Linked DNA regions of Homo sapiens. The protein of the gene in region 1 purifies or fractionates together with the protein of each later gene. This does not show direct contact. Each region holds a gene or a part of one and is shown on either strand. Other genes may lie near its edges. The genes, in order: LRATD1 and NMT2.

Region 1 (4,007 bases):
GAAGAAATAAAGTGCGTGTGCTGTTGGGAGTTGAGAGATGTTTTACAAAGTCATCATGGGTATGATCTCCCTAGATCTGCTCACCCCCTTGCAGAATCTGAAATCTACAGTGGACTTGGAAGTGAGCAAAGAGCTGGTATGTCACAGGGCTGTCACAGGGAAAATAACTGAATTTAGAATAATAACTTATTTGCTAAAGTAAATGTCAGTGTACTTATAATAAAGAAGCTCTCAAATAGAACATTAATGTCTGTATCACCCATTGATGGCAAGAATTTCCTTAGGATACATATAAGCAATAGCCTTATATGATCTTTTTCAATTTTTTGAAACATTAAATGATGCTCAAAGTAACTTTTGAAGCATTCATTTTGTGCTTGAAATTTAGGACACTGACTCTATTCATACCTAGTATTTCATAAGTATCTATCCTTTGGACAAAATAAAGTTCAGAACTCATGTTCATATTAAGAACTGGATTATAAAAGCCAAGAGGCATAGCAATTATTTTAATATATAAATGAGTAATGTGTATTTAGAAAAACACCCATGACCAAACTCCATCAAATCTAATTTTCCCAGAGTTAAGTGTACATCTAGTAAATCTATTCCCATATACCAAAGAAAATTTTTAGCAAGAGCTACAATAAGCTTCCTTCTGAAGGAATAATCTTGTGATTTCATGCGAGAAAAATCTCTCCTTGAGGTGAATGAGAGATGAAGTTGTGAAAGTTACAGTTGGAACTATTTTGCTTTTCCCTTCGCTTTTCCCTTTCTGACCAAATGACAAGAGAACATTTTCTACTTTTCCTGGATTCTTTTATTGTTTTCTCTGCTAAAAGCAAATCAAATATTACAAATACCCTTCAACTCAAATTAGCCTTAAGCCCCATAAGTTATATTTCCAAGAGCCTTTTGTGGTGGAAAGAACCTGCCAATTTTGGTTAGAGAAATTTCTTTAGGCTCGCCTTTGCAGGCAAGGCAAGTGACGGGCTTTCTGGTTTTCCTGGTAACCAAGAATCAGTGAGAAGCACTTGTACTAGACAGCTGCCATAGTCTTACATTTATGGAGTACCTACTGTGTGCTTTCTACTATCAGCCATCAAAAAGAATGATAAAAGTCCACAGCATAGGAATCTGTTCATCTGAGTGTTCTGCCAAAAAATACAGTAATTACAAGTAGTGTCACCATCAGTGACAAGGGCAGGGAAGACTATTTTTCCTTTTTTTCCCAACTTATTCAAATACTTAAACCTCTTCTATTTCGAGTTCAAATGAGGTAAACATACAACCTCAAAGGTAAACTTTGAGTTATGAAATAATGGGATTTTATGAATTACTAAATGATTGAAAGATAGGATCTTAGCTTCTCTTTAGTGTCTTCAGTTAGAAGGGAGAACAGGTGTCCCCTGTTGAAAAGTTTATTAGCTCATTATATGATCTCATAGCCTCCCCACTTTATCTTGCTTCTTATTTTTCAGTTACTTCCTAATATTTACAACTTTCCTTTGAATTTTTTCCTTTTAGTTAGAGAAACCAGGAACATATTCTTCCAAAAAATGAGAATAAAACTAATTGCACAACTCCCACATTTTCTTTTTATTGTTAGCTTTAGACATAGCTGCTTGCTGTGCAGTTATACATTAGCTATATGACCTCCAGGGCTTTTCTTCCTGTTTTTGTATATCTCAAGTCACTCTCTATTTTAAGTAGCCTGTGTGTGTGTGTGTGTGTGTGTGTATCTGAATGAAATAATTGCTAGCTATAGGCAAAAATGTATGTGTACACAAGTATATATACATGTGTATATATGTATATGAGTGTATACTTACATATGTGTAAATGTACATATGTGTGTATGTATATGTATACATGTACATATATGTATATTATACCAATAGCTAGTAATTTCAAAAAAAACATTGACTTGAGTGTTAGATAACCATTCTCTAAATTCAGTTTTTGATGTTTCAAGAAACCCAAAAGCCTGTCTTTTCACCTACAGACCCTTTGTGCACGTGGCAAATCACCTCTGAAAGGCAAAAACTAACTGGATTCTCTTCATTTGTTCAAAAAAGAGAAGAAAGCTTTAAAGATATGCCTATAAATAAAAGAAAATTAGGTTGCTATATTATGATTGTGCAATAAGTATTAATTTCATTGAAGTTTGACCCTGTTCCATGTATTAGATGACTAAGACATTTAACTCTTAGGGATGTTGAAAGCGCACCACAAAACATAAGTAATCAATAAAGTAATGTTTGAAGACTTTTAGTATATACTGCTTATTCAGGTAATTAATTATTTTGTAAATACTAATAGCATATTTTTCCAAGAAAAATAAAAAAGCCATGTTCTAACAAAAGTGTTCACCACAGAAAAATTAAACATAGGGGAAGGTAAACATTAAAGTTTCAAAAAAACAGGTAAATCATACAGCTGCTTCTGTGCTTGATGTTCTAATCTGGCACAAGTGTTTCGTAACTATAATATACGTTATTATTTTTAAAAAATACTGTCATGACAACAGCTTACATTATTAAATATTGAGGAACACTTTATATCAATTTAACTCATACTTAAAAATGTAACATACGTAAATTCTATAGTTTTTTTTTTTTTTTTTTTTTGGAATGTACTTTGAGAATAACAGCATTTCAGGACTGGTTTTGTTTAAAGTATACCCAGCCCCCCTCCTTATTTTATTTGATTTTTGGTTTAAATAAAAATGTAGCAAAGCACTCTTTGAAGTAAAAGTACCTGTCTTTTCTTTTTTCTTTTTTTAAATCATAGTTTGTTTTACCTGAAAGTTGAGAAAGAATGCAGTATAAATATAGCTTTTCTCTACACGGGAGCAGGGGGAACAGAACCAATCCCCAGCTTAGCCACACCCAACATCATGGAAATTACTGTGAACCTGTTGTCTCTTGAGGACAACTAAAACCAAAACGAAATCCCTAACATTATTAAAATGTTAGGAAACTTTTCAGGTAATTGCTGTAACTCTGGTAAAATACAGAAAGATTACATTCACTCATAATAAAAATCAAGTGTGCCCACGCCATCTGCAAAGGGAACTTGCACCATCTTGGTTTCACTCGCATTGTTAACAGTGCCCTAAAAGTATACACCTTTTTCAGGATAAAACCATTAGGTAATATCTTGATCATATCCTCTGCATGATGAACTATCACTCAAATTATTCTGTCATGGGTTACCTTACTAACACTGACAAAGAGATAATAAATGATAATTTTAACAGGGATAGGAGAAACCTTGCAAACCTTTCAAGTTTCTTTCATAACTATTGTTTTATTATTGCATATTTTTAGAGGTATTATCATCAACCTGATCCTTTATAGGCCAATATAGTAACAAATGCTAATTTAACTGCCCAGCTCATTTTTATTGTCAGTCTAGCCTCAGCAAGTATAAAACTGACAAGACATTCCTCTATGAGAGTGACCCTCTTAGTGAGAGAGAAATCTATGTACCATCAGAGGAAATAAATCTTAGTATTCGGTGTGATAGAGACTAATTCATTTCTTTTGATGAAGTCCCACTCTTTGAGTGACTTTGAAGGGGGAGACAAAATGTCAAGAAGGAGTCCTGCAGGAACAAGTGCTTAAGATGGTGTTTAATACAGCAGGGAGCCAAGATACAGTAGTAGGACACAGTAAAGAATGTGGAGTGTGTAGATACAATAAAGAATTCATTTTATGATCTGCCACCTGTTACTTGAAAGAGGAGTAAGTTAGGGAAATAAATGACTCAGTTCTTCATACATGCAAAGGTAAGTTAGTTATTACAAAAGTTTTTGCTGTTGTTTGTGCTGAAAGAAAAGCATATGCATTTAAACATTTTTTAAAAAATAAATCACTCAATAGGCTTAAGAAAAATACTTTAGTTCATAGTTCATTGATCTGACGTTTTGATTTAAGATCAGGGGATGAATCCAGGATGAAAACCAAAGAAAAAAAAAGAAAAAGAAAGAAAAATATAGAAGT
Region 2 (3,824 bases), on another chromosome or scaffold:
GCATTTCCACAAACTGGGAGAGGAAAGGGCTGCGGTGACCTCTGCCCCTCCCAGCAAAACCTAAAAATAATTTCAAGGCTGGTTACTTCTCCCCATCTAAACTGCTAGCAGCGTAGTTCAGGCCATCACAATTTCTAGTGATTTCCACCAAGAAGAGTTTTCCAAGTCCTTCTCTGCAGAGCTTCCCAACATGGTAGGACTAAAACCCAGGCTCTTCCCCATGGCTGCTGCCTGCCTCGGCCCCTCTCCACACCCTCCCTGCCCCCTGCTCCCAGTGCTCTGGCCATGATGACCGGGGCAGGCCTCAGCTCAGGGCCTTCCTGGTGCCTTCCTTAGGCTTGAGGCCCTCTGGTCCTCAAGGGACGGGCCCCTTGGAATTCCCGACAGAAGCTTACGCATCACACGTCACTTTCTCCCAGCATCTGTTGCTTAACTAAAGCCTTTCTCTACCTCAGTGTGGCCGCTCCTCCCCAGCCTGGCCACCTTTTGTCCTACTTTTCCACCACTGTTTCCAGGTGTGTGCCCTGGACTATGCCTGGCATTTAATAACAGACACTCAACAGACACCTGCTCCATGAGGGACCTTCAGGGCCTGGTCCTTCCATCACAGAACCTTATATACATTTTTAATACTCTAATGGGCTAGGTGCGGTGGCTCACACCTGTAACCCAGCACTTTGGGAGGCCAAGGCAGGTGGATCACTTGAGCCCAGGAGTTCGAGACCAGCCCAAGCAACATACTGAAACAGCGTCTTTACAAAAAAATACAAAAATTAGCCAGGTGTGGTGGTGTGCACTTGTGGTCCCAGATACATGGGAGGCTGACATGGGAGGATGGATCACTTGAGCCCAGGAGGTGGAGGCTGCAGTGAGCTATGATCATGCCACTGCACTCCAGCCTGGGTGATAGAGTGAGACCCTATCTCAAAAATAATAATAATACTAGTAATGTTTCAAGTGTGGGGAAATTGGATGTTTTTATTGGGATAGAAATTGGACTAAAATAATGGTTATCAAAAGCCAATGTCACTATCTAATATTTATATTTTCAGAAGAAAAATATTAGTCTTGCATAGATTTCCAATCTGTGGTATGAAATAAATGATACATGTGAAGTTAACACTCTTTGTGTTTTGTTGTTGTTGTTGTTGTTGTTGTTGTTGTTCATCCAGCTTTGTTTGTGGGGAAAAAAAGAGAAAAGCAGAAAAACTTACCTAGTTTTGGTACCGGTTGTGTGTCCCAAAACTGGTATCTGTGCTTTGCAGCCTCATCAATGTTCCTGGCTGGGCCCTGGCATGCGGATAGCAGCTCCATTGCTCTCTGGATATCCTGCAACTTCTGCATTGGAACACTGGGATTCTACGACAGCAAAGACAGACACAGAATATGAGAGAGCGGCTGCTGATGTTAAACTTGAGCAGACGCACGTGCATCTGCCTCAGAGACTACAATACCTAAACACTAACAATCCTCCTCCAAGCCCAGTCAAGGCCATGGGCTTGTGTGTTACACATGAAAATAGAAGCAAACCCTCTGTTAAAGGTAACAACAGTTGTCTAGTTTTATTGGGGCTCTGGCAGTTTGGGGAATCTAAATTGAAGCACGCTTTGCTTCAGTTTCCCATCCATCTACAAATGGTCCCCGGCATTACTCCTCTGGGGGAGACGTGCAGTGCATGCATTACTGTCATCCAACAGCCAGGCAGCCACGAGCCTTGGGTGGGGGGCACTGTCAGAGTAAATGCTCTGCAGGAGCAACGAGGGGATGAAGGAAAGAACTTCTAGAATGGAAACACAGCAGAGAAGGGAAGGGAAGGGGAGGGGAGGGAAAGAAGAGAGAGAGAGAAAACAAAGAAAGAGAAAGAGAGAGAGAAAGAAAGAGAGAGGATCGGCAGTGGTGTCTCACGCCTATAATCCCAGCACTTTGGGAGGCCGAGGTGGGCAGATCACGTGAGGTCAGGAGTTAAGAGACCAGCCTGGCCAACACGGTGAAACCTTGTCTTTACAACAATACAAAAATTAGCCAGGCATGATGGCAGGTAATCCCAGCTACTCGGGAGGCTGAGGAGGGAGAATCGCTTGAACCTGGGAGGTGGAGGTTGCAGTGAGCTGAGATCGCGCCATTGCACTCCAGCCTGGGTGACAAGAGCAAGACTCTGTCAGGAAAGGGAAAGGGAAAGGGAAAGGAAGGGAAGGGAAGGGAAAGGGAAGGGAAGGGAAGGGAAAGGAGGGAGAGAGAGAGAAGGAGAGAGAAAGAGAAAGGGAGAGAGACAGAGAGAAAGAAAAGAAAAGAAAAAAGGAGGGAGGGAGCGAGGGAGGAAGGAAGGAAGGAAGGTAGGGGGGAGAGACAGAGAGGGAGAGGGAGGAAGGAGGAAGGAGAGGGACAGGGGGAGGAGGGAGGGAGAGAGGGAGGAAAGGAGGAAGGAAGGACAGATGGAAGGAAGGAAGGAAGGAAGGGAAATCTGAACTCAGTGCTGAACTGGGATGAAAATGATCAAGAAAAGAAATCTCTAACCATGCCCCTTCCTCCCGGCCACACCCTGCCCTTCTCCTGACCCTCCTGATCCTCCTGATCCTCTAGAGACAAACTCTCCCACCAGAAGGACAAGCAATTTCCTCTGTACTTCAGATCCTGGGCAACCATAGCCTGTCGTTCCCAGCCCAAGTGTTGGAAACTGGACTCCTTTTTAGGTAAAACATTACGTTTGAATTCTAAGGTTCCTTTCTCAAAGCCAATATTCCCGCCAGCTCTTGGAGATTCCCCAGTTCTTTTTTTTTTTTTTTTAATTCCTCAAATAACGTAATAATACATGGAACATGAGACTACTTGAAATGAGAAGACAGCGCAGAGGACTGAATATGGAAATCAATGACTTTTTTCAATATGTAAAATTACTGAGACATTGTAGAACTTTGATACCATGCAAAGAATATTCTTCGCTGTAATTCAGAAAGTGGTTAGAAGTTTCAAGAGCCCTTCGGTTTTGCTGTATGTCAACACAGGGTGGACACCATTGAAAGGTACAATCGACCCTTAGAAGTTTATAAACAGCAACTTTGGACTTCTGTTCCACTTGGAATCTGAAATCTGTGGTGTGGAGCAATAATTTTAACTTGGGAAGCTTACTCATCGTACACAGCACAGAACAGGGTTTGTTTCATACAAACACTGTCAAGAACCCTAAGGAAACGAAGTTCTGAAGTCCAGCTGGAGGCAGGTGAAAGTCTTTTTGTCTCTGCTTGGAAGTCTCACAGCACAATCCAAGATGGCCACAGTTTTTGTAAGCTGTTTATCTTACATTTGTTTAACATCAAAATCATAAAGGTCCTATCTTAATGACACATACAAATTTAACAAAATACTTTTCCGGTTCTCATTATTATATCTTTGGATGACTTCTTTTCCTTGGGTGTCTTTTAAGTCCCCAACATTAAAAGGAGCAAATTTCTAGCAAAATGAAATTCATGTGTATCTGAACTCCAACAACACCATCTATTAGAAGACCTTACAATTTAAATAGGAATTGAGATCACAGCATATTTCAACTAATAATGCTTAACTGTGCATCAGTTTAGCTTAAAATGGCAAAGTAGAGCCCAGTCTTATAAAAATAGAACTACAATGACTATAATGAATTTGTCATGGTACTTTTTCTTTCTTGATTTAATTTTTTGTTCCTTGATTTCTTTCCTGGTTTCTGAGTTAAATCTTCTAACAGTAATATATCAAACTCAAACTATTTTGCAACAGACATGAATCAGCATCTTTGTTCCACATGACCCAATGACCAAAATGACCAACTCCATGAAGAAGACTTCAGAGTG

Evidence for each region.
Region 2: the proteins of LRATD1 (region 1) and NMT2 purify together in Homo sapiens (affinity purification with mass spectrometry; one large-scale study listed by BioGRID and IntAct). This does not show direct contact.

Annotation. Positions count from the first base shown.
Region 1 is NC_000002.12:14,636,837-14,640,843, reverse strand, and holds the end of LRATD1 (protein LRATD1), read right to left. Parts: 3' UTR 803-4,007; downstream 1-802. UniProt on the Homo sapiens protein: May play a role in cell morphology and motility.
Region 2 is NC_000010.11:15,134,060-15,137,883, forward strand, and holds part of NMT2 (glycylpeptide N-tetradecanoyltransferase 2), read right to left. Parts: exon of another isoform or gene 1,360-3,824; coding exon 1,215-1,359; intron 1-1,214.